4 linked regions of the Homo sapiens genome follow. The protein of the gene in region 3 interacts with the protein of the main gene of each other region in a pairwise test. Each region holds a gene or a part of one and is shown on either strand. Other genes may lie near its edges.

Region 1 (7,031 bases), about 110 Mb from region 3:
GCCCCTGGAGACCCACAGGGTTTGGCACTGTCCGTGAGGCTGTGCTCCTGAGGACGGACGTTCAGGAGGCCGTGGAGGAGCAGCGCTGCAGGAGCAGGGTGTGGCAGCTGTCGCACACTCGCACCGGCTTGGGGTAGGAGGGCAGGGCCAGCTCGTTGCTGGAGCAGGTGTTGCAGAAGATGTGGCCACAGTTCCGGCAGTGGTGCTACAGGACGGGAAGAAGGCGGTCACAGGACACCCGGGGAAAAGCCATCCGCACACCCTCCCTGCTTCCTGACCCAGAAGCGCATCATTTGCTGGGAATGGGTTCTTATGTTTCTGTGGGGTGGTGAGGGGCTGTGTGCAAACAAGGGTCTTTTTTTTTTTTTTTTTTTGAGATAGAGTCTTGCTCAGTCGCCCGGGCTGCAGTGCAGTGGCGCGATCTCAGCTCACTGCAAGCTCTGCCTCCCAGGTTCACGCCATTCTCCGGCAGTAGCTGGGTCTACAGGTGCCCGCCACTATACCTGGCTAATTTTTTGTATTTTTAGTAGAGACGGGGTTTCACCATGTTAGCCAGGATGGTCTCGATCTCCTGACCTCGTGATCTGCCTCCGCCTTGGCCTCCCAAAGTGTTGGGATTACAGGCGTGAAACACCGCGCCCGGCTTTTTTTTTTTTTTTTGAGTCTCTGTCGCCCAGGCTGGGGTGCAGTGGCGCAATCTCGGCTCACTGCAACCTCTGCCACCTGGGTTCAAGCGATTCTCCTGCCTCAGCCTCCCAAGTAGCTGGGATTACAAGTGCCTGCCACCGTGCCCGGTTAGTTTTTGTATTTTTTTAGTAGAGATGATGGGGTTTCACCATCTTGGCCAGACTGGTCTTGAACTTCTGACCTCGTGATCCACCCACCTCAGCCTCCCAAAGTGCTAGGATTACAGTCATGAGCCACCGTGCCCGGCCTAAGGGTGTTTTTAAGACAAAAAGTTTACTTTTGCTGTACTTCATCACTAAGCCAGTGAGCTGCTAGTCCATGTTACAGGAAGAGTCTGGTTCGTTCTCTTTGCTGCATTCCAAGGGGGTGGAGTAGATCCCTTTCTAAACAGGTTCCCTGGGTGCCTGATAAGACATCAAGATGAGCACCTGTGCAGCCTCTGCTTCTGACTCCACAGATGGGGACAGCCAGGCCTTGTAGACACATGTGATCTCAAAGGCAGCCTCAGGACGTGGTTTCTAGCTCTGAGCTTACTGCAAGGCACTGCCTGAAACTCGGGTTGGGGAGCGGGTGGGGTAGCTGTGGCTTCCTCTCTTCCACAGAGCTAGGCTGTTGATGGGAACAGACAGAACATGGCTGTGGCAGAAAGGTGGGTGGCGCTGGCAGTGTTTCCTTTAGCTCCCAGTTTTGCTTATACCCAACTCTTCCCCTACCCAGCTGGTCTTGGTGAGACTGTTAATAAGGCCCAGTCAACCCTAGACCCAAGGGTGAGCCTAGGACCTTGTTTCCAGAACCTAAAGGGCAGGGGCAAGCACGCTGCCTAGATCACTAGTGATTTTTGGTGACCTGCTGCCCTGTAGGTTCCCCATAGATTGTTTTTGCCTAAGTTGGGCCAGATTTTGTTCCTGCCGCATACAGAGAATTTTCAATGACACTCCCCTAGAGCAGCTCTGCACACAAGGAGCCCCATCTCCCCAAAAATCATTGTCAATCACTGAAAGGATGTGCTGGAGACCAGGGGCCTATGACTGGCCAAGGCCTCCCAGAAAGAGGGTGCCAGGATGGAAAGCCATCTGCACAGGCAAACAGGAGAGGCGGGGCTGCCCATCTGCCACAGTCAGCACAGTCACCGGGCAGTGAGCCTGCTCTGATATGGGCTTCTGGAACCAGAGAAAGGGGAATCCAGCGGGCAACGACTCAGGGCACTGGGAGGGTGGGTGGAGCCCCCACGTACCTTTCTCCGGGAAATGGAGAACTCCTTCTCACACTGCCTACAGTGTGTCGCTTCGTCATCTTTCAGCCAGGCGTGGCCCTGAAGAGGAAAGGACATTCTAGAATCCACTTTCTGTCTAAGCCCCTGATGAGTGGGTAGCTGCGTTCTGGCCACATCCATTGTCCCTCATAGCACCTGTTTCCTAGTGAGGCACTGTTTCTCCATCAGATGGGGCCTCACAGGACTGTCATCAAGGGGCTCTTTCCCCGTCTGGCCGCAGCCGGGATTTCTGCATCCTAGCTCCGTGCTCCACCTCTTGGCCTCTGCAGGCTGCCCTGGGGCCTCCAGGCGGTCTCCAGCATCTGCTCACTCAGGCACACTCCCACTTTCAATCAGTTCCCTTTGGCTGAAGTAAGCAGAGCGAGCTTCTGGTGCCTGCAACCCTAGACCCTGCCTGAGACACTGGCCGAAGTGCTAGCTGAACTGGCAGGCGCGGAAGAAGGGCCAAATCTGAGTGAGACTAAGACACTTGTTGACGCTGATCCTTGTGGAGAGACAGAAGGTGATGGACAGCGGGCACTGCGTCCCACAGGCCTGAGGAAGCCCTTCTCCATGCGGGCCAAAGCCCTGATTCTTGACCAGCCCTGGGGAGCACATGGACTCCATTCCACAGGGGAGGCGGCTGAGGCTTTGAAAGGTGGCCCCTCAGAGGGCTTTCTCAGGGCGAAGCAGCACCTGTGATTTATTTGGGCTTAGGGACTGGGGTGTTCCAGAGAAGTCAAAGGCATGAGGTACTTTTCTGGCCTGTTAACATCTGCTGGACAAGATTTTCTTGCTGACAAATAGATCCTCACAGACTGAGCTAGAGCCATATACCCTTGGGGCTGCCAGTGTGTGCCCAGGACATTCATCCTGACATCAAAGAGCTCTGGCGGCTCTAGAGTCCTGTTTTATGATTTCTATCCTCTGATGCTGTGAAACTGATATTACCTAGAAGTCCCGGCTGCTGTTAGTTGCTGCCCCTGACCTGGCACTTGGAAGTTAGATGCCCAGAGACATCAGGGTCCCTGCTCTGCACCACGTGGAACAGTGTGCAAAGGGACTGCTTTTGCATTGCTGCCACGGCACAGCTGAGGCCGAAGCGGGGTGCTCCTGCAGGCAAGGCTGTCTTGAAGGCCAGGCTGCCGTGCCCCCGAATGTCTGCCTCCTCTCCCACACTCTCCGCCCTGCAGCTCAGCCTGGCACCCGCACCCACACCGGGCCACCTGCAAACTCCTGCTTTTCGGTGGAATGTGTCATTCTGCCCTCCCCACCAGGGTGCGGAAACCTGGCCCAACTCAGGGCTTGGCTTGAGTGGTCCCTAGCAATGGCACAGGGCACTGCAGTGGGGCTGGCTGGCCTCTGGCCCCTCACTTCAACAGAAGGGCCTGTTTTCCACTGTTTAAAGATATCCGCGGGTCCCTCCTCTCCGCCACCTGCTTCCCCCTTAGGGAATGCCCATCAGGCCTATTTTGAAAGCACAGCTGATGGTGGAGGAACTGGAGTCGGAAGACCTAGGCTCAGCTTCGGCCACCTGTCAGCATCGCCCTCAGCCGAGGGACACGTTTCTGAGCAGCGTTTGGCTTCTCTGTCAATACGTCATCACCACTGCCTCAACCACACGCTCTCACCTGACTGTTGGGATACTTAAACGTACGAGCACACGGGCAGTCAGCACAAGCTGACAGCAAAGAAGTGGTTCTTAGCAAGGCAGTACCTTCAGTGCCTGGTTCACTTCTTTTATATCTTCCATCTTCAGCTTGGACCTAAGGAAAAAAAAAAGGCCATTTCATAGCAGTGAGAGAGAGTGAGGCTCTGAATCCCTAACACAGCTGGCTCTCAGGACTAGCTTTGTGAGGATACCGGACTTGTGAGGAGACCCAGAACGTGAGTTGTTAAAATGCCTTCCGCCTCTGTACAATCCCAGAGTTGCCTCATCACACTGGCTCCCGTCTGCTGAGGGCTGAGGCTGAGCCTGGGACTGCATCTGGCACGAGAACACACTGCTTAGCCTGCAGGGGCTCAAAAAGACTTTGAGGGAGGCTGAGGCGAGAGGATGGCCTGAGGCCAGAAGTCCAAGACCTGGCCCTGTTCTGCACTAGTCTCTACCGCTCTCCCCAGCAGGAACCTGAGTCTGCAGGCTTCTCCCCGGCCTCCATTCTGCTGCCTGCTGTCTGGAAGGGGGAAGGCTCAGATGGCATAGCCATTTGTTCTTGCTCCATTCTTGTTCAGTGTCAGAACAATTCCTTTGTTTACACAAGAGACAGGACTGAACATGGTCTAAATTGGCAGAACTAAACCAAATAAAATGAAGCAGTTTGTGCAATTGAGGGAAACAGTCTGATCCTTTTTTTTTTTTTTTTGAGACAGGATCTTGCTATATTGCCCAGGCTGGAATGCAGTGGTGCAATCATGGCTCACTGCAACCTTGACCTCCTGGGCTCAAGTGATCCTCTCACTTTAGTCTCCCAAGTAGCTGCGACTACAGGTGCATGCCATCACGCCTGGCTAATTTTTGTATTTTTTCTAGAGGTGGGGTTTTGCCATGTTGCCCAGGCTGGTCTTGAACTCCTGACCTCAATTGACCCACCTGCCTCAGCCTCCCAAAGTGCTAGGATTATAGGCCTGAGCCTTTTTCTTTTTTTCTTTTTTTTTTTTGAGATGGAGTCTTGCTGCATTGGCCAGGCTGGAGTGCGGTGGTGTGATCTCGGCTCACTGCAACCTCTGCTTCCTGGGCTCAAGCAATTCTCCTGCCTCAGCTTCCCAAGTAGCTGGGATGACAGGCGCCCGACACCACACCCAGCTTATTTTCTTGTACTTTTACTAGAGATGGGGTTTCACCATATTGGCCTGGCTGGTCTTGAACTCCTGACCTCAAGTGATCCACCTGCCTCGGCCTCCCAAAGTGCTGGGATTAGAGGCCTGAGCCCCCACGCCCAGCCTGGCCTGGGTCTTTCTTAAAAGCTGAGATCAGTCTGAACTATCATCAGATTAGACTCATCTCAGTGACAAAATGGCAGGTCTCTGGGAAACACAGGCTAGACTTCGAAGGGAGGGATTAGAAAACAGCATCAGGGCATTTAGAAAAATCCCTGTGGCTTTTACTAAAGATCGGGAGGCAGCTCCTTCCCTTCCTGGTCCGGCTGCAGAAACAGGAAATAGGCCAGCAGATTGACAGGATGAGAAGAGGCTGCGCAGATGGACAGACCTTGGGAAGCCAGGTCAACAAGGCAAACTGAACATACAAGAACTCTGGGAAACACAATTTAGGAAGAATCCAGATGTTCCCAAGCCAATGAAACTGGAAACTGTTCCTGTAGCTAATGTAGGGCCTGCGAAGAGGCTTTGCCATCTCTGTCATCCGGTATAGGCTTGCAAGAGGAAGAAGGGAAGAGGGGAGAGAGCACAAAAGCAACTCCTCAGGTAGTCCTGTCTGGGTTTGCAAACACCTGATGCTGTGACACCCACAGCACTCACTGGGAGGGAATGGTGGCCAGGCAGCTCACACTGGGATTTGGAAGCTAGGTTAGCCGGTAGTGCCAGGCGGCCACAAAGTGCAACAATACATTTGTTTGTTTGTTTTTGAGACAGAGTTTCACTCTTATTGCCCAGGCTGGAGTGCAATGGCGCGATCTCGGCTCACCGCAACCTCCGCCTCCCAGGTTCAAGCGATTCTCCTGCCTCAGCCTCCTGAGTAGCTGGGATTACAGGCGCGCTCCACCATGCCCGGCTAATTTTATATTTTTAGTAGAGATGGGGTTTCTCCACGTTGGTCAGGCTGGTCTTGAACTCCTGACCTCAGGTGATCCACCCACCTCAGCCTCCCAAAGGGCTGGGATTACAGGCATGAGCCACCACACCCGGCCACAATGATACATTTTAAAGATCAGAGACCAACCACAGTTTCGAGGTCTATGGTCCACTAGGAGGGGACCTGTGACACTGCCTTGCTGTCCATCCAATGTAAAGAGGAAAACACTGGCTGCAAACCCCAGAAGCCAGCTCCACGCCAGCTCTGTTCCACGTCTGCTTCTGGTGAGTGCTCTCGGGATGCCCTCACAGCTGGCCTATGCTCTGAGCATGGGGACAGACACTGGGCCTTGCGTCCCTCAAGGAGCTCCCTGGGGGTTGGGAAGGAACGGGCCAGAGCACGGCAAGTTGACAGGCCAGACGGGAGCAGCACAGGGCACTCAGCTGAGTGGGTGGCAGGCAGGGCGGAGGGTGGGAGGGGAGGAAGCAGCGGCCATGGGCTAGTCTAGAAAGGTAAGAGGCACAGGAGAGACGGCGAGTGGCCAGCACCTGCATCTGGGAGTGGGCAGACCGCATTCCCACCAGAGACATCAGATTCCCTGACCAGCTATTTGTTTTTTTTTTTTGAGATGGATTCTCACTTTTGTTGCCCAGGCTGGAGTGCAGTGGTGCAATCTCGGCTTACTGCAACCTCTGCCTCCCGGGTTCAAGCGATGCTGCTGTCTCAGCCTCCCGAGTAGCTGGGATTACAGGTGCCCACCATGCCTGGCTAATTTTTGTATTTTTAGTAGAGACGGGGCTTCACTATGTTGGCCAGGCTGGTCTCGAACTCCTGACCTCAGGTGATCTGCTCACCTCAGTCTCCCAAAGTGCTGAGATTACAGGCGTGAGCCACCGCACCCGGCCTATTTTCTTAATAGTACTAGACTCTACAAATTTCTGGTGCAGACCAGGCTGTGCTGAGGTCGTGAGCCCCATCTCCTTGGTCATGGTGCTTATGTCAGGCATGGGTACTCGGGAGCAGGGTCAATCTCGGGTGATCCTGGCAGCTATGCACAAAGAAGAGGGAGTTTGTTCCTCTGATAGATGGCCTTGCTGAGTGCTGTTTTGCCCCTGCAGGGTCCAGACCCACCTGTGAGGCAGACAGGATAGCAGAGGTAGGAGACAGAGACCGATTCCTGATGGCTTCTTTTGCTTAAGCCACTTTGAGTTGGATTTCTGTTACTTGCAACCATGCGCCCTGACTCGAGGAGAAAAGCTACCCACTATGTTGAAAATGCAGAATCATCACACAAATGGGCAAGTTCCACAGTCCGCAGTGTGATCCACCCCAAGGCCCAGG
Region 2 (7,989 bases), on a different chromosome or scaffold from region 3:
CCCTGGCCGCCTCCTTCCTTCCCGTTGCCTTCAGCCACCTCAGCAACGGCATCCTTGACATCAGTAAAGATGAAGGGGAAGGTGATGGAGGCCTCTTTAGTGGCCACAGGGCCATCGGTGGGCTCCGAGAGGGTGTTGGTGAAGATGCTGGTGAGGGAGGAGGGGAAGGTGAGGGAGCCCTCCCCGCTGGCCGAGAGGCCCACACAGTAGAACACGGTTGGCGTGTGTTTCCCCACAGGGACGAGGCCATTGTTGAGGGAGATGGGGCCCCAGCCCTGGGCCACGCCAACCGGGCTGCAGAGGGAGCCCCGGCCTTTGAAGAGGAAGCCCTTGAGCTCGAAGGTCTGGATGCTGCTGCCGAGGAGGCCGGGGCCGTGGAAGAGGGGGTCTCCAATGGCCACCGGGAAGCCTTTGCCCCCAGGCATGGCCACTGAATCCCCAGACAGGAAGATGGAGCCCTGGCCGATGACCAGGGCCTCACAGCTGCCAGTCACAGGGAGAGAGGCCCCCGCAGGGGGGGCAGGGCCCTCAGCGATGGGCACCTGGTCATTGCTGGTACCCACAAGGGAGAAGGGGATGGCGATGACAACGCCACCCTTGCCAAGGTCGTCGCCAGGGGTGGACAGCGGTTTGCCCCTGGAGACGGTGCCAGTGCCACCCCAGGCCGTGGCGGGGAAGTTGCCTTTTGTGGCGTTGGCGCTCCAGGCGGGGTCTGGGGCCTTCTGGAGGAAGCAGACCCCCAGCTCACAGGCCTCACAGCAGCCCTCATAGGCCTCCCTGGGGTGCCGGGCTGGGCCGGGGCCATCCCCGTAGCAGTCCTGCAGGATGTGCAAGACCAGCCTGCTGAGGAAGGGCTGCTCGCCCGGGGGCCTCACCTGGCAGTCCCCGGGTGCGGGGCACAGCCTGCACCGCTGGCCCCAGATGCGCATCTTCACCAGCCCCCGGTGGCTGGCCCTGTCCCACCACAGGTGGAAGAGGACGTGCACATGGGCCGAGTCCCAGGTCCCCGGACAGTGACCGCACTGGAGCCTGCGGCGGGGAAAGAAGTGTGTGTGAGTGCAGGAGAAAGAGGCCCCACGCCCAGCCCTCGCACTCTGCTCTGCGGCCTCCTTGCCCATCCGACCCCAGCGCCTCGCTGCCCCCTGCCTCACATCCCACACTCAAACCTCAAACCTCACCCCCCAGCCACCCAGGGCCGCGGCCAAGGCAGCCTAGCACCTGCTCCTGCCTGTGCCGAGGCTCTGAAACCACCAGCCCCTCGGCCACACACAGGCAAAAGCAGGCCCATGCGCACTAGCCCGCAGCCCCCTCATGTGGAGCACTGAGAAGCAAAGCAAACCTCCTCTCAGCAGTTTTTCAACAAAACCCGCTCCAGCCTGGCCTCCGTGAGGCGTCGGCAGCCTGCCACCTGCGTGGCTCTGCTGGTGTTTTGTGAGTTGGGGTTAACACAGGAAGAGGCAGGCCTGCCGACACACTTAGGAGGGGAAAAGCATGCATGTGGGGGCTGTCCCTGGGGGCTCAGCAAGTGGGGGTCCCTGTCCTGACTGAGAGGAGGCGATCCAGGAGGTCGCCTGCCAGCTGAGGGGAAGGATGTCACGGAGGCCTGCGGTCATGGCCCGGGCAGCCCTGCTGGGCGTCACCAGGCGAGGAGAGGTTTGGGGAGAGCACTGGGAGGGATTGGCTTGTCCATGGCGGTCATCAGACCGGTGACCATTTGCTAGCCACACAAGCAGCTGTGAGCTTCAGGGAACCCTGCATGAGTGAGAGGCTATGATTCAGTTCCAGGCAGTGGAAGTTTCTGGATGACAGAATGTTCTATAGCCACACTGCCCTGCCTGCAGCCTCCAACCACACTGGCCACAGAGCCCGTGGACACGTTCGTGCTGGAGGAACTGAACTGCTGACTTTATTTAAATGGGACTGAGGAGCCAAAGCCACGGGCGCTGGGGCTGCATGTTGGGGCAGCCGTCCTCAGTTCTCTCCCGCCAGCTGGGAGCCGCTCAGAGCCATCTCCACCTGGCTGTGGGAACAGTGATGTGCTTCCCAGCACTTCTCAGACCCCAACACGGGTTATTACTTTCCCAGCTTCTGAAAAAGCTGGGATTCTGCACACACCTGGCCCCAGGGGTCTCAGGCACTGAGGAGCTGTGTCAAAGGGCAGGACGACTCCCCCTTTGCCCAGGGTGTCTCCACAGAGGGACGGACCAGCCAGCAGCCTGGGGGCCTGTCAGGCCGGGCATCTGCGAGGATGTGGAGCTGCCCCGCGCCCCTCCCAGCTGGCACCCGGCCGAGCTGTGGATGCCTTGCCAGTTGGAGAAGCGCATGGCGCCCGCCCTGCTGCGCTGACGGCACCACAACCGTGATGACGGCCTGTGAGGCTCACTTGTGACCCACAGCCACCCCGGGCCCCCGATCAGGGCCGAGCACCCCGCTGTGTGCAACACAGGGCCGGATGGTGACCACAGGCTCCGGCACGCCCCAGGGCCCACCTGTCAGCACTGATGGCTGCGAGACCACGGCAGTGCCATGGAAGCAGGAGATGAGCCTGTGTCCAAGGGCAGCGCTGGCCCAAGGAGCCGAGTGAGGGAAACCAAACTCTCCATGAGGCACCCGCCATGTCTTCCCCGGGACCCCTGCGTCAGCAGCCGTGTGCCCAGCATGGCGAGGCAGGGGCTCCGGCGGGAGAAGGAGCACCCAGCCCCACCCTCCCGTCTCGGGGACAAGACGAGGCCCAACAGCCCCACCCAGCCTCTGGGACCACCCAAGGTCCCGTGGAAAAGCACCTTCAGCCCCCTGCCTCTCCCAGGGTCCCCAACCTCTGGCCGCACCTCGAGAGCCCCACCAGCAGGTACTGGACACCACCGCCGTCCAGGCATCCCGGGACCAGGCTGTGCTCAGGTAGCAGAACCCAGACGTCCTGGGGCTTCCTCTCGGCCATGGCCAGGGTGAAGGTGCTGGCCCACATGTCTGCCCCAGCCCGGTCCATGCTGCCGCCTGGCTCCGCAGTGTGGGCTGAGGGCTGCGCCCGCCGGGGGCCCAAGGAAACGTCCCCGCATCCCGCGCCGGCCAATCAGCCACCTTGACAACAGCATGGTCTCCATGGCAACCAGATTTGTCTCCGAGAAATGGGAAGCAGAAAGGAAAAATACAATACAATGCAATCTCCCATGACCCCGCCCCCCAGAGAGCATCCCTGTGGCAGCACCGTGGTGGTGGTGGTGGGCGTGGGCCCGTGGACACGCAGGGGCCTCCCCAGACCCGTGCGTGTAGAGGCCCGGGTGTTTTCACACATCGCACCAAGGAATCATCCACAGCCCTCTCTTTCTAGTGCACATCAGGAGCGGTGGCCCACACTCATCCCTTGCTGAACACTTGGTATTTTTCCAGCTTGTGGCTATCATGTAACTTATTCACTCAGCTTCTCTCTGCAAACAGCACTAATGCTTTTCACACAAACAAAGCTGAGAAGAACTTTATAGAACGTGTATCATTGCAGATTGTCCCGTGGGTGTATTCTCTTAAACTTTTTACTAGTGAGAAATATAAAATATTTACATAAAATGCCTAAAACATAAATGCAGAGCTTCACAAATTATTCTAAAGTCTTAAGTCACCACGTCCTATAGGAAGAAACAAAACCTCGCTCTGCCAGCCTCCAGAGCTGGCTGCCTGTTCCCTCCCGATCTCAGCCCGCGGCCCCACCCCCACCCCCTGCCCTCCTGGCAGAGGTGCCACCAGCCTGGCCGTGCCTGCACAGACAACGTTGAGGCTTCAACACCTATGATGCCTCCCTCACCGAGCCCTTTAGCTGTGCAGCTTCTGAGCTTTACATAAACAATTCATGCATGTGCCCAGCTTCTCACGCCTTTTCAGGTTGTTTAATTTCTGAGATTCAACAGCATTGCTGTGCGTGGCAGCCACCTGTCATGGCACAACAAGAAAGGGTGAGCTGAGAAGGAGCCGGGACGTGCAGGGGCGGAGACAGCCAGCTGATCCCTGCAAAACCTCAGCACAGATCTGCCCCCGGGAGGCTCCCGGCCACCCGGCTCTCCTCACAGCTCCCATCTCGCCATCTCTCTGCCCTGCACACTGAACAATCTCTTCTCATTTTTCTACCACTTCACACATTATCTCCTCGTCTCTGTCGACTCTGCAGCTAATGCTGGCAAGCGCCTTGTCATAGTTTTCATTTCTGAACCTTCTTTTCGGCCCTTTCAAACCTGTGACATCTTCCCGCCTTGCAGCTAGGTGTGACTGCAAGATAGAAGAGGAAGCCAGTGGGACGCACTCTGGGAAGGGGCCTCCATACAGGGCCAGACTGCCAGGGAAAGCCCCGCGTTTCTCATCCCAGCTTCATTTTCTTCTATCCATCAGTGCTGGGATGATGGCCGCACTCCAGCCTGTCTTAGACCTGCCTCAAGCACAGAGCTGTGAGCCCAAGGAGCAGGAAGGCGGGAGCCCGGGGCTGTGGTGACAGATGGAGTCGTCACACCACTGGAGGGTCGCCCACCTCTGGGTTTCCTGTTCACACGAGAAGTAAGCCAGCTGCCACTGTGGTCTCGAGGCACTGTTCTCTGGCACTGTGGATGATCACACAGCTAGCCGGAGCAATCCTAACTCACTCGCCGGGCTGTATCTAAGGTCCTGGGGTTTGCTGGTTGGCTCCGGGCCACTGTGCGTGTGTGGGCCCCTTGTGGTCCTGGTCGTGTGCCCCCGCAGGGGTCTAAGAGACACCTACTGTCCACTTGCCTCCAAAAGCCTCGGTCCACAGGGGTCCCTGCAGAGGACCTCCTCCCACCACAGCCCCCCAGAGCCAGTGTTTCCTGGCTGCTTCCGTGCCACGCTGGGGCCACAGCCCTGCCTGCCAGTCCCACCTCTCAGGCTCCTCAGCCCTGGAGGCCACACCTGGCTCTGAGTTTAGGGAAAAGCTTTGGAATGATGACTGACCACAGTCACCCAAAATAACCTTTTGGATGGCAATTCCGGCCCTTATGAAATGCAGGGAGCTGGTTGCCCGGGCATTATTCGCTCAAGAATTGTTGAGTTTTCCTTAGACCCATCCCAGAACACCTCCAGAGGCCTGGGCGGCAGACAGCAGAGAGGGCATCCTGTCCACGCCTCTGTCTGACTGCCCATTTGTCTGTCTCCCAAACCCACAAGCCACGCCCTGCAAGAGCTGCTTACGTGGCCCCCTCACAAATCAGCCAGCCATGAGCACCCCCTCTTCTTCGGCGGGGATGGATGAGGCAGGTTGTGCACAGCACCCACGGGTCCCTGCAACATGTGGCAGGGTCCTCCTTGGGCCTTCTGCATCAGCGCCCACCTGGAGCCGGCCACTGGAGCCTCTCTCCAGGCATGTGTGGTCCCTCCAAGGACAGGCCCTAGGACCCAGGCCTGGGGCAGACGCCTTCTGACCCCGCTCCCTGCCCAGCCTCCCCGAAGGCTGGCTCCAGGACAGGGTGAGATGGGGGTGGGAGATTGGGCCACAGGGAAAAGAAACGATCAGGGGAAGCCGGGTGCCCCTTCAGCACTGCTGCCCACCTGGTGTGGTGGCTTAGCGCTCCCTCTCCCCGCAGACACGCGCTCCTTCTGGGGCCCCTTCCTCACACGCTGGTACCCGTCTTCCTGAGCTCAGCTTCTGGGGAGGGCAGCTGGCAGGCCGGGGACAGCCCTCCCTTGGGAAGCAGAACTTGCAGCTCAGGTGAGTCCCACCACAGTCTCCTGCCAGAACGGATGCACTGCCTGGGCCTGGAGGAGCAGAGGCAGCAGCTCCCGGCGAGGGAGGAGCAAACGCCAAGGCCCGGTGGGGCCAGAGGACCGGTCGGCTGACGGGATGGTGGTCCTTGCTCAGAGGGAGAAAGAGACGGGCAGGAAAAGGAGCCGAGCAGAGAACGGTGGCCGTTCGCAGGTGCTGGGGCTCACCCTCCCCCCACAGACCTCAGCTGGGGCTCACCCTCCCAACACAGACCTCAGCTCGTGGCTGCAGCGGCAGGGACAAGGCCGCCTCCCAGACCCCAGGCCCTGCAGTCCCACAGGCCCCACCGGCAAGGGGTTGTTCCTGGCCCAAGGCTCCGTGTGGCTCTGCCCCAGCGCTGCCCAGGCGGGCAGGGATCCCAGGACCGGCAGCTGGTGGGGGGACGCAGCCTCTGTCCAGCCATTCTGTTGCTGAAAGCGCTTCCACTGTCCAAGAGGCCCCTTGCTCTCCCCTCCAACCCGCAGTCCTGCTGGGGCTGGGGAGGCCATTCCGAAGGAGGAATGCAAGGGACCTCCTGCACTCGCCCTCGGAGCATCCCTCCCTGGGGGACCGCTCACTCACGCTGCTCATCCCCCGCAGCTCAGCATCCCCCGCAGCTCAGCATCCCCCGCAGCTCAGCATCCCCCGCAGCTCAGCATCCCCCGCAGCTCAGCATCCCCCGCAGCTCAGCATCCCCCCGCAGCTCAGCATCCCGCGCAGCTCAGCATCCCGCGCAGCTCAGCCCGGGTTCTTCGGCTTTGGAGCCCAGCAGGGGGACCAGCAGGGGGACCAGCAAGGGGCCTGAGTGACACCCACTGCCCTGGAGTGAGAAGGCAGGGGCGCCACACACACACAGGACACCACACACCACACACCACACACACCACACACACTACACATACCACACACACACTACACACACCACACACACCACACAAACACCACACATGCCACACACGCCACACACACCACACACTACAAGCCACACACACCACACACTACACACACTACACATACCACACACACTACACACACCATACACTACACACACCAGACACACTACACACACCACACCACACACACCAAACACACACATCACACAAACCATACACAACACGCACTACACACACACACTCTACACACACCACACACAGCACACACACCATACCACATACACCACACACACTACACACACCACACGCACCCACACACACCACACACTACACACACCACACAACCAAACACCACACATGCCACACATGCCACACAAACCACACACTACACCAGACACCACACACACCACACAACCAAACACCACAAGACACATATGCCACACACACCACACACTACACACCACACACTACACACACCACACACTACATACACTACACACATCACACACTACACACACCACACACTACACACACCACACATAAACGCACATTACACACACCACACACACACACTACACACACCACACTTACAACACACACCACCCTACACACACATCACACAAACCATACACAACACACACTACACACACAACACACTCTACACACACCACACACAGCACACACACCATACCACATACACCACACACACTACACACACACCCACACATCACACACACTACACACACACAACACATTACACACACCACACACAGTACACACACCACACACACTACACACACCACACACAAACGCACACTACACACACCACACAACCAAACACCACACACACCACACACTACACCACACACCACACACTACACATACCACAAACACACACTACACACACCACAGAAACACCACACATTACCGCACACACCACACACACTACACATACCACACACAAACACACACGCCAAACACGCCACACACAGTACACACACCACACACACTACACAACCAAACACCACACACACACTACACACACGACACACACCACACACACGACACACACCACACACTACATAAAAACACTACACACACCACACACACCAAACACCACACATGCCACACACACACCACACACACTACACTACACACCACACACACTACACCCACCACACACACAACACACCACACACACCACACACTACACCACACAACACACACAACACATACTACACACACCACACACACACTACACCCACCACACACCACGTACACACTACACACACCACACAATGCACACTACACACACCAAACACATTACACCACACACCACACACACTACACACACCACACACA
Region 3 (4,175 bases):
GCCTTTCTCTTAGCAGTATTAGTTCATGAGCTACCACTAAGTTTTGCAAGCCATTTTCTAAAATGGTCATTTAAAATACTATGTTTTCTTATGAAACAAGTTTACATTTAAAATTTAAAAGGCAGTAACAAAGTTTCACTTCGTTCAATGTAAAACTTTAGCTCCGCCTTCAAAACACTATGGTTATATTACTTATTTAAATGTGGCCTGCACATTACTTCTCGGCCTTTTGGCTAAGATCAGGTGTAGTTAAGATCAAGTTTAGTATCTGTTCTCATCAGTAAATGTGGCCTATGTTGCAAATTCAAAACGTTATTTCTAAAATTTTGCTGTATCAAATAAACTACATCTCAAATTTGACAGGCATGCCAACCCATACCCATTTTGTTTTATTTTCTCTCCTAACCACAGCACAAATAATGACTTCTTAAATTGGTTACAACTAGCAATAATATTAGGTAGATGGTTCAAGAAAGAGACTTTCAAGAATAATGATGGGACTTCTTAAAAATGATCTTAACATTTTATTGCTGTCTATACTTATCATATATGTAGTGCAAATAATGGCTTCTGATGGTTATAAAGCATTCCTGAATTATAGACTACGGCTATACACTTGACATACCTGCTTTATATAACATACAGTAATATTTAGACCTAATACAGAAATTCAGCTACTAGGAAAATTCTAATATACTGTATATAAAAAAGCTCTCTTCTTAGTTTCCCAGGGAAGACTAGCACAGTCTTAACTAATGATTAGTGAAATAATACAACCACAAATAGTAATAGGAGCTTGAGAAAAATATTTCTTTAAAAATGAATCACACACAAACACCTACCATTATACATACATTATAATCAGGCACAATTTTTCAACTGTGTTCAGTTATATGCTAAGAATGTGCATTACAAAGTTTAGCAAAATTAGTGAAAAGGGAAGCAAGTTCACCTTAGTGTTACACTTTTTCTTCAATTAACTAGTAAACAGTTCAAGTTCTCACAAGCAATACAACACCTTTTTTATTTTTCACAGTTATTGAAATCAGTCAAATATTAAATAATTTAATTCGGAAGTATTATTTATGCACACAAACTACACCTGTAACAGCATGACCTTTTACCTGAAAAATAAAGGATGAAATATTACATTTATTTATTTACATATTGCCCATAATACTGATAGGCTTTTTTTTTAATGCTTTGTTTTCTAAAACTTGTATTGTTTTTAAACAAAAATAGATTTGAAAAGAATGAACCACAACAGTGCTACCAAAAAGTCACATCTTGTTACCAGACATCACTGTCCTTACAACAATTCAACTAATAAGATTTAAGATTTAACTTCATCCTAATGTATCAGAACATTAAAAAAAAAAAAGTCTCAATGTACCTATTTAAATAAATCGTGCTTCCATAATAATATTCTTTAAAAATGAAAAACAGTAAAGAGCACACATTTTTATTTACTCACAACACTGAATAATTAATGTAAACTTTTTGAATTTTTTTTTTCTTTAGACATTTTTCCTCTAGAGTAACTTTTCAAGGCCTTCTCATGAACAGCCTTAAGTTTTATTGTCAAAATAAATGCACTTATTTTGGGAAACAGTTTGAAGTAAGTAATAAGCATTTGCCACTGTACTTACAACTTCTCTTGAAGTTCGCTTTCTATTTAGGTCACTAGCTTTTAAATAAAGCCAACCCTGGTTCTGCGTTACTTACTACATTTTACCTATAGTCATTCCCACAAAGGATGCAATATTATATTAGAAAGAAATATTACTTTAAATTTGTTGAAAAATAGAAGGACCAATTTAGAGCTCTGACCTAGGTTCAGTCCTGGAAATGGGTCTTTCATAAATTCAGATCCAATTACTTCCACAGTTTTATTACTGTTCAGTTTATTACTAACCTGACAAGCCTAATTGGGTAACATTTCACTCCCTCATTGTGTTTTATACAAAATGCTGTAGGAGAAAGTTAATAAAACACTATATAAAGTATTAATTTTCTGTACCTTATAGTTCTTAGCATTAAAGGTGTTCTGTTAACTCTGAACATAAACATAAAGTAATCCTATTATCCAAATATGTAGTTTGGATTCTATTTCATTAAGCAACTGTCATTTCTACTACTAAATGCTGCCAACATTCAGTGAAAAGGCAGGTTAAAAGAAGCAGCTATACTTCACTTGCTTCACACAGAGGTCTCATTAGGCACTCAATTGGCTATTCTTTTTTCACTGAAAGAATAAACCTTCACTTACCCTTTCTCTGTGACTACCTCTTTCCCAGTATATTGGTCACATATTATCTGAAAAACTTAAATAACAAATATACTTTTTAAAAGAATGTATATTCAATAAGTTTCTATTTAATTCAATCTAATCTGCTCAATTAGAAATTTAATTCTGCCACAAAATTTTTTTAAAGCAAAGTACTGAATTCCCAATCCAAGATTCCTTTATATATATATATATATATATGCATCCTAAATTACCATCTTTTGAGATGTATAATTTCTTAAAACATACTATGTGCAAAGTTACTTTTAACCACAAAACTTCAAACAACTGCTGCCTTTAAAATCAAGCAACATCCAATACTCCAGCAGCTACAAGTTGCCGTGAGAGCCAGTCCAACCCTTCATACAGTCCCATACCACTTCGAGCATCACAGCCCTGAATATACCAGCTACGGCCACAGCATAATTTATGGAGACTGAGTAGTTCAGTGATTTCTTCTACTGACAGTGCTCCAGCAACATCCTGAAAGATATATACACATATTTTTTATCAGTCCATCCAAATTATAATTTTTCTAATTATCACCATTTATAGAGAAATTTGTTGACAGTGTTCTAACAGAAGCCTAAACAAAAAACCTAGATTCATCTTTCAGTAATTATTCTGAGATTAATAAGAATAGAAAAAATTAGTTTGGTTTAACTAATTTATATGTGTGTGTATGTATATACTTTGTAAGGCTAGCTTAACAATGAAATCAATAAAGTCCTTGCAACCTAAAAGGAAACATACTGCCTAAGTAATTTTTTTATCTTTTGAGACAGAGTCTCACTCTGTCACCCAGACTGGAGTGCAGTGACATGATCTTGGCTCACTGCAACTTCTGCCTCCTGGTTCAAGCGATTCTCCTGCTTTGGCCTCCCAAGTAGCTGGGATTACAGGCATGTGCTACCATGCCCGGCTAATTTTTTTGTATTTTTAGTAGAGATGAGGTTTCACCATGTTAGTCAGGCTGGTCTCGAACTCCTGACCTCAAGTGATCCACCAACCTCAGCCTCCCAAAATGCAAGGATTGCAGGCATGAGCCACCACGCCTGGCCTGCCTAAGTGTAAGGCATCAACTTAAAAAAAAAAAATTAACACATAGAAACCTTAATAAATGGTTTATATATAGGGTTATATATTGAAGAGTTCACTACATTCCCACTCTGAACACCCATTGCCCCAACTTCCCAGGAGCAACCACCAGTTACAACATATTTTTCCAGAAAATTTCCATGCACACTCATGCAAAGAGACACAAACAGGAACATAGTTTAGACTTTCTATAACTTGCAGGGTTTTCTGTTTGTTTTTTACGTAAACATGTTGAAGATGAGTATCTTTCCATTATCAGCACAGATGGTCTGCATTATTTTTAATATCAGAATTCCCTTCCATTGTGTGGCTGCAACATAATTTAACCAGTCCTATACTGAATGTTCAGATTGAAGTTTTATGCTTATGTGCTATTATAAATCCATATATATACACATACATACATAAACATACATACACAAAAGTTGACATACATTTATGTATATTTGCAAAATTATCTGTAGGATAACCTTTGGATATCTGTCTACCAGATATATAAAGGTAGAATTGCAGGGTAAGGGACTTTGATGAGTATTGCCAAATTGTCCTCCAAGAAAATGTCTCAGTTTAATAACCCACGAACAGTGTTGACCAGGCGCAGTGACTCACACCTGTAATCCCAGCACTTTGGGAGGATGAGGCGGGCAGATCACTTGAGGTCAGGAGTTTGAGACCAGCCTGACCAACACGATGAAACCCTGAATCTACTAAAAATACAAAAGTTAGCCGGGTGTGGTAGCAAGCACCTGTAATCCCAGCTACTTGGGAGGCTGAGGCAGAAGAATCGCTT
Region 4 (7,031 bases), on a different chromosome or scaffold from region 3:
GGTGGCCCATGCCTGTAATCCCAGCACTTTGGGAGGCCAAGGCAGGTGGATCATCTGAGGACAGGAGTTCGAGACCAGCCTGGCTAACACAGTGAAACCCCATCTCTACCAAAAATACAAAAATTAGCCAGGCGTGGTGGCAGGCGCCTGTAATCCCAGCTACTCGGGAGGCGGTTCTCATTCTCAAAAAAGTTTGTGTTAAAAAATAAAATGCTGCATCTAATTGCAAGTGCTTTTTTACCAGTATGTGATTGGCATAACAGCAACACATCGAAGTGTCAAAAGTGTAACTCTCCTGCCAAGTGAATTACCTCAATTTCCTGTAACTGCTCCTGATTGGTTGTATACATCTGCTGAACAGAGTCCTCCAACTCTGTGTTCCGATCCAGTAATGTCTTCCCAAGCTCAGCAGCAAGTTGAAGATCTAGCACAACAAATGAATCTTAGAATAATACAAATGATCTCACATCAACAATTTATATAACCCAGTCCTTCAAAAAAGAACATGTAGTTTAAGTCACATCCCAATGGAAGGTGGAGTGGCACAGAAGGAAACCCGAGTTCTACTTAAAATTCAGTTAAACTGACGCCTCCAGCAGGTAATGTATTCTCTTATGTACCCATACTTGTAAGAAGTGAAAAATGGTCATCTACTTTATGGAGATGCAGTTATTTGTTCAGGAATGATCATTCCGCAGTGTTACTTCTAAAATCCTATTTGCTAGTACAATGAATGTATTCATATCCTGACAGTCTACTTTTTTGAATGGACCCTTGAGCCAAGGTATAGGTGGAGCTTTCAAAAATCTTTAAAGTTCCCATGAATTTGCCTGCTGTGAATACAACTGTTAAAGTTTATTGTCATATATCCTGGACTCCTAAGGGGACTAAAATTTATTAAGTCAAGAAAAGGAAAAATACATCAGCATTAAGAACACTGCCCCAGGTCACTCTACTTCTCTTCGTGTCCTTCTGTAAGATGAGCAACTAGAAAAGCAAAACAGAAATGTGGTTTTTGAGGTAATTACATGTCAGTAGCTCATACTTCCATTTAGCACAGAACCATATTTTATTTTAAACCTCATTTTTCAACTCTCTCTATTCTTAGGTATAATGCCCATAAAACAGGATTTGTTTATATTATACTCAACTCCCAGAAATGAAAATTTAGTTAACAATATAAGAAAGGACACTAGTTGTAACATACGTCATTGAAATACTTCTTTGCATAGTAAATCTTATGGAGCAGTCCTTTGATACAGTGGGAAATGCACTGCACTCTGGGCAGGTAAGTCTCAGGCCCAGTTCTATCATTTACCAGAACACTTTCAATATGGTGACTTTAAGGCCCCTATAGTTAGTATTCTTGTTTAGAGAGATGACTGTCTTATCAATATAAGATTGTGAAAATCAAATGAAATAATACATAAAGGAGTACTTTACAAACTAAGTTGCAATACGCACGCAAAGTACTATTAATAGTCATTGATTCACAAATGAATGTTTTTGTTGCCAGGCACTATGCTAAGCATTAGCTATAGAACAGTGAATAAAATGAAGTCCTGCTTTGCTGACATTCCCAGATTAGTGGAGGAAGCCAGACAAATGAGTAACTAAACTCACATACTGTGATAAACAGTATTCATGCATGCATGCATATACTCAATAATATCAGACACTATTCTAGGCACTGGGATGGTGCCCAGGAGCCATAAGGAACTCACATTAAAAAAATATCCCTGCCCTCATGGAGCTTATATTCTACTGGGAGAAACAGCACAATAAAACTTGATAGCGATAAATGCTAAAGAGAAAAAAATAAAGCAAGGAAGAAGTACAGGAGGAGTGTGGATGTGGGAGGCTGAAATTTAAGAACATGTGACCAGGGCCACATTAGAATCAATGTGTGAAGGAACAGAATAAGTGACCCATGTGTATCCATCAGGGAAACAGCACTCCAGGCAGAGGCAAGGCAAGTGCAAAGCACCTGGGAGGAAGCATGACTGAGTCATTAAGGAGGCTGAGGAGGGTGGAGCAGAATGTATTGGGCAGGGAGGGGAGGGGGAAGACTCAAATCAGAGGGGCTCCAAGATGGCCAGTTTGCGGAGGGCCTAACTAAAGAGGTCAAGAGTTTGGCCTTTACTCCAAATGAAGGAATCCAATGGAGGTTTAACAGGATCACTCCGGCTGCTGTTATACAGGGTGAATGGGACAAAGGTGGGAGCAGAGTGACAGAAAGATACTGCAATCGTCTGGGTGAGAGATGATGGTGGCTTGGACCAGGGTGGCAGAGATGAAGATGGGAGAGGAGGGGCAGAATTCTGACATGTTTTGAAAGTAAAGCTAAAGGATTTGTTGACCAATTCAATATAAAGTCTAAAAGATAAAGCGGGGGAGAAAAACCTGGATTTGGTGATAATGAACAAAGGGCTTTCTTTTTCTGTCTCTTTATTAGGCACGGTCTCGCTCTGTTGCCATGCTGGAGTGCAGTGGTGCACTCATGGCTGACTGTAGCCTTGGATTCCTGGGCTCAAGTGATCTTCCTGCCTCAGCCTGCCAAACAGCTGGGACTACAGGCATGCACTACCAAACCCAGCTTACTTACTTACTGATTTATTGTAGAGACAGGGTCTTACAATGCTGCCCAGGATGATCTCAAACTTCTGGCCTCAACACATCCTCCCACATCAGCCTCCCAAAATGTTGGGATTACAGGCATGAGCCACTGTGCCCAGCCTAGGGCCCAATTTAGAAAGGGAGGTCATAAGGAAGGTCTGACAAGACCTTTTAGCTGAAGCTTGAAGGATGAAGAACTTGCCATGAATTTGGCATATTCTACAACCTGACAAGCAGCCAGTATGATAGAAGCATGAGGGATCAGATCATATAGGATTTTATAGCCCATGGTAGGTAAAGTTTAAATTTTATTCTAGGTATGATGGAAAGTAGCCTCAGTTATTGTCATAAAAGTATTATGAAAAAAATTTATCATAAAAACAAGGAAACTCACTACATAATGATTTTTAAACTTAATTTTTAGAGGTTGACAAATAAGGCTTAATGGCTATCCACCACTACTCATAGTAAAACTTAGCATTGAGTAAATGGTAACAACAGCATTAGTTGTTGTAATGTCCACTCAAGTGCATAATTAGTATTCTACTTGGTTAGTTTTCACTCTGGAAAAAGCAGCAAAACCTACCACACCCAACTCCAGATCATTTAAAAACATTTTACACCCATTTAAAATAAAACAGTATACTGTTGGTAGATAGGTGCTAAAATACATTCTCTTGTGATTTCAAAACTAACAATGTCTATTAGTCATTACATTCATTAAGACTTTAGAGGCCAGGTGCAGTGGGTCATGCCTATAATCCCAGCATTTTGGGAGGGTGAACCAGATGGACTGCTTGAGCTCAGAAGTTCGAGACCAGCCAGGGCAACATGGTGAAATTACATCTCTACCAAAAATACAGTGAGGCCCTGTCTCAAAAATAAAAAAATAAAAAATAAAGACTTCCATTAAATCTATGAAATAACTTGTATTTACAAAACACAGAACTTTTACAAATAGCTCAAAGCATTTAAGAGACATTAGTCTTTTTCTTGTCATTATTTATTTATTTTTTTTGAGATGGAGTCTCTCACTCTTGTCACCCAGGCTGGAGGGCAGTGGTGCGATCTCGGCTCACTGCAACCTCTGCCTCCTGGATTCAAGTGATTCTCCTGCCTCAGCCTCCTGAGTAGCTGGGATTACAGGCACCCACCACCACACCTGGCTAATTTTTGTATTGTTAGTAGAGATGGGGTTTCACTATGCTGGCCAGGCTGGTCTCGAAATCCTGACCTCAAGTGATCCGCCCACCGCGGCCTCCCCAAGTGCTGGGGATTATAGGCATGAGCCACTGCCCCCAGCCTACTTTTTGTTTTCTAGAGACATTAGTCTTTATATCTTTAAAGGTATTTAGTCCAGTTTCTCAGATGAGACAGCCTGAAGCACAAAACTGTTAATTGACCTAATCAAGCTCCAAGGTGAGTCACAGATCAAACAGAAACTCTTAGGTCAACAGGTTCTCACTCTCACTCTCATCACGATTCTTTGTTATCTTCATCTGCAGAGTTTTAAGGCAATTGAAAGAGAGGTCCGCAGGCTTCTTTAAGGTAGAGAATACAAATGTTCCCCTTGTTGAGGTACTTAATTTCTTCTACTTGTTTTCACAGATTGCAATGAGAAATTAGAGTTCAACTATTTGGGTTTTTATTGCCTGCTCTGCTAGTGAAAGCACATACAACCCCAGGCAAGTTAATACCCTGTTTTCACCAAATGAAAAAGGAACTATGTATGGCTCAACATGTTCCAGAAAAAATGATTTTGTACTCACAGAGTGTGTAATGTGTATACATAGACCCATATGGAAGCTACCACACTGTATTAAAGACAAAGTATAAAAACATTACCTAGGTATTACTTAAGTCTTTCCTTCTTAAATGTGTGAAGTGGTAATTCCTCACTGGGAAGGCTCAGATTCACCAAAGATGCTCTTAACCAGCAATCAAAGCCTGAGCCAAGGACCGGGTGTGGTGGCTCACACCTGTAATCTCAGCACTTTGGGACGCCAAGGCAGGAGGACTGTTTGAGGCCAAGAGTTCGAGACCAGCATGGGCAACATAGCAAGACCTTGTCTCTTAGCAGGAAAAAAAAAAAAAAGAAAAAAAACAAAACCCAACTGGGCTGAAACCTCTCCCAGAATCCAGACTGTCTTGAGACTATCACCACTTTCATTCAGTTATGGAACTACCTGTGCTACTTAAGAGTAGCCAGGAACCTCTTCCCTGCTCCTGCAGAAAGAGATACCAAGGACAGCACTCTTTAGTAGATAGCAAACAAAAAAGAATTTGAGACTTGTCCTTATCTCAAACCTTATTTCCAGTAAAACAAAGCACCAGCCTGGCTCAGAAACCTGAAGTCTCGATCTCCTAAATATTTATAGGCTGTTAAGGATAGAATTTTAACAAGTCCCAACTACAAGAAAGCTCCTGTGAAGTCACACTGTATAACAGGATATTACTTCATCTGTTAGCTTAAAGACACCGGACTTTGTCTTTAAAAAAAGTTCATTTCCTGTTGAGTAGCAGCTGGCTTCCATAACCAAAAGAGGCCAAAAGCTGGCAGTAAGCCCAAGAAAGTTTTCTAAATAATTAGTGGAGGGAATAGAATATTGAATGTCCCTTATAGTTTTAATTAAGGCACAAAAGAAAAGGAAATAATATAGTTTCGAAGCCTTATACACCTGTTCATCTCTACAGGATTACAAAATGAATTTTCATTAAGAGGGTCTTCTCTAAATCCTATTGAACTGGCCTGGTTTAGGCAACTACTAAAAATACTGTAGATTTATTGCAGGCTTGAGAATTTCAACATATCAATACCTTCATATGTTGAATATTCTTTCACTAATGAGTCTTTGCAGGTAATAATATATTTTTAATGGTGTAAACTGTTAGCTTTAAACAGATACTCAGCTCTATGCTTTAGGCAAAAAATTAGTACTGGCAGCTGTAGTCTGTAGGAGTAATTCACTAACAGTAAGGCTGAAAGTTTTTCCTATTACAAAGTCAAATGCGTCATTTAGTGATGCTTCTGTTTAACTCCTGTTGCCAATGTTACTATAATTGGGAAAGCAGAAAACCTGAATATAAATATCAAGAAAAATGATGTTGTCAGTTTTAATAACCCTCCAAACAGTGATTCAGCAAAATAGTTGTACACAAGGAGGATGTACTCATCCTGCAATTTTAGGATTCCTTTAAACTAAGAGTTCATTTACTGATCCACATAACAGAAACCTGAATCCTTATTCTAAGTTTGCACAGCTCACCAAATGACAATAGCAGCTGGTTTAAAAGAAAATCCAGTCTCTGAAGTCTTTCCACCTTGTTCTCAGGGGCATGTTTCAAAGCAAGCACCATCATTACCTGCACTGAAGGCTCCTGCTGTCCCAGAAAAGATCTTACCCACAGAGATTATTGTCAGTATTCCTACTGAGCCAACTCAGCTCTCTGACAAAAGACAGTCTCTTCATCAAAGAGTTTTGTAACAGCAAAGGGTTTTCTCCTCCTGCCTACACAAAAGCTTTACATGTTTCTAACAAGGTATGAATAGTAGACCAGAGTTTACTGAGGTTAGAAATTTCCAGCAATTTCAATTTAAAAACGGATACCCTAGGAAACTTTGATACAAAGATTCAATCTATTCAGAGCATGGCTTACTACTGCTAAAGGAAAACATTCTATAGTTGTAAGATACTGAGAACAGGATCATTAAAAGTTGTTTTCCAGCCAGGTGCGGTGGTTCACGCCTGTAATCCCAGCACTTTGGGAGGCCGAGGCGGGTAAATCACGAGGTCAGGAGATTGAGACCATCCTGGCTAACATGGGGAAACCCCGTCTCTACTAAAAATACAAAAATTAGCTGGGTGTGGTGGCACGTGTCTGTAATCCCAGCTACTTGGGAGGCTGAGGCAGGAAAATGGCTTGAACGCGGGAGGCGGAGATTGCAGTGAGCCAAGAGCGTGCCACTGCACTCCAGCCTGGGGACAGAGCGAGACTCCACCTCAAAAAAAAAAAAAAAGTTTTAAGCAGTTCTCTCCAAATAAGCCTTGCTCAGTAATAATAATGAGGATGTTAAAAAACGGACAGATGCCTGCACATAAAATCCCACTAGACTTGCTGAATAATCTGTTTAACAGGACAGACCTGCTCCCAAACTTAATTCAGCAGCAAGTGTCTACTGAGGGCCTACAATGTACGAGGCGCTGTAGTGGGCACATCCCATGAGGCGGCACCTCCAGGCTTCTCTAGTGAACAGATTCCTGGAACATTCACTCTATGGGAGTAGGAATCCTACCTATCCACTCATGTGGGGAGGTGCTGTGGCCCCAGGGCCCAGGCGAATACCTGGCAAAGAGCAGATAATACATTTTTGAGAAATGAACAAGTTTTAAAATCTGTTAAAAGTTTAGGAGTTA

The links.
Region 1: the proteins of TRIM23 (region 3) and RUFY1 interact in binary tests that used the Homo sapiens proteins (3 or more experiments, as listed by UniProt).
Region 2: the proteins of TRIM23 (region 3) and RTP5 interact in binary tests that used the Homo sapiens proteins (3 or more experiments, as listed by UniProt).
Region 4: the proteins of TRIM23 (region 3) and CDR2 interact in binary tests that used the Homo sapiens proteins (3 or more experiments, as listed by UniProt).

Annotation. Positions count from the first base shown.
Region 1 is NC_000005.10:179,602,550-179,609,580, reverse strand, and holds part of RUFY1 (RUN and FYVE domain-containing protein 1), read right to left. Parts: exon of another isoform or gene 6,809-7,031; intron 5,975-6,808; exon of another isoform or gene 5,840-5,974; intron 3,706-5,839; coding exon 3,657-3,705; intron 2,000-3,656; coding exon 1,922-1,999; intron 1,297-1,921; exon of another isoform or gene 1,116-1,296; intron 1,092-1,115; exon of another isoform or gene 965-1,091; intron 206-964; coding exon 62-205; 3' UTR 1-61. UniProt on the Homo sapiens protein: Activating adapter involved in cargo sorting from early/recycling endosomes. Regulates retrieval of proteins from endosomes to the trans-Golgi network through interaction with the dynein-dynactin complex.
Region 2 is NC_000002.12:241,864,754-241,872,742, reverse strand, and holds the start of RTP5 (receptor-transporting protein 5), read right to left. Parts: upstream 3,015-7,989; 5' UTR 2,987-3,014; coding exon 2,829-2,986; intron 1,030-2,828; coding exon 1-1,029.
Region 3 is NC_000005.10:65,589,179-65,593,353, forward strand, and holds the end of TRIM23 (E3 ubiquitin-protein ligase TRIM23), read right to left. Parts: intron 2,771-4,175; coding exon 2,591-2,770; 3' UTR 2,325-2,590; coding exon of another isoform or gene 2,266-2,324; 3' UTR 1,125-2,265; coding exon of another isoform or gene 1,121-1,124; 3' UTR 512-1,120; downstream 1-511.
Region 4 is NC_000016.10:22,364,591-22,371,621, forward strand, and holds part of CDR2 (cerebellar degeneration-related protein 2), read right to left. Parts: intron 425-7,031; coding exon 312-424; intron 1-311.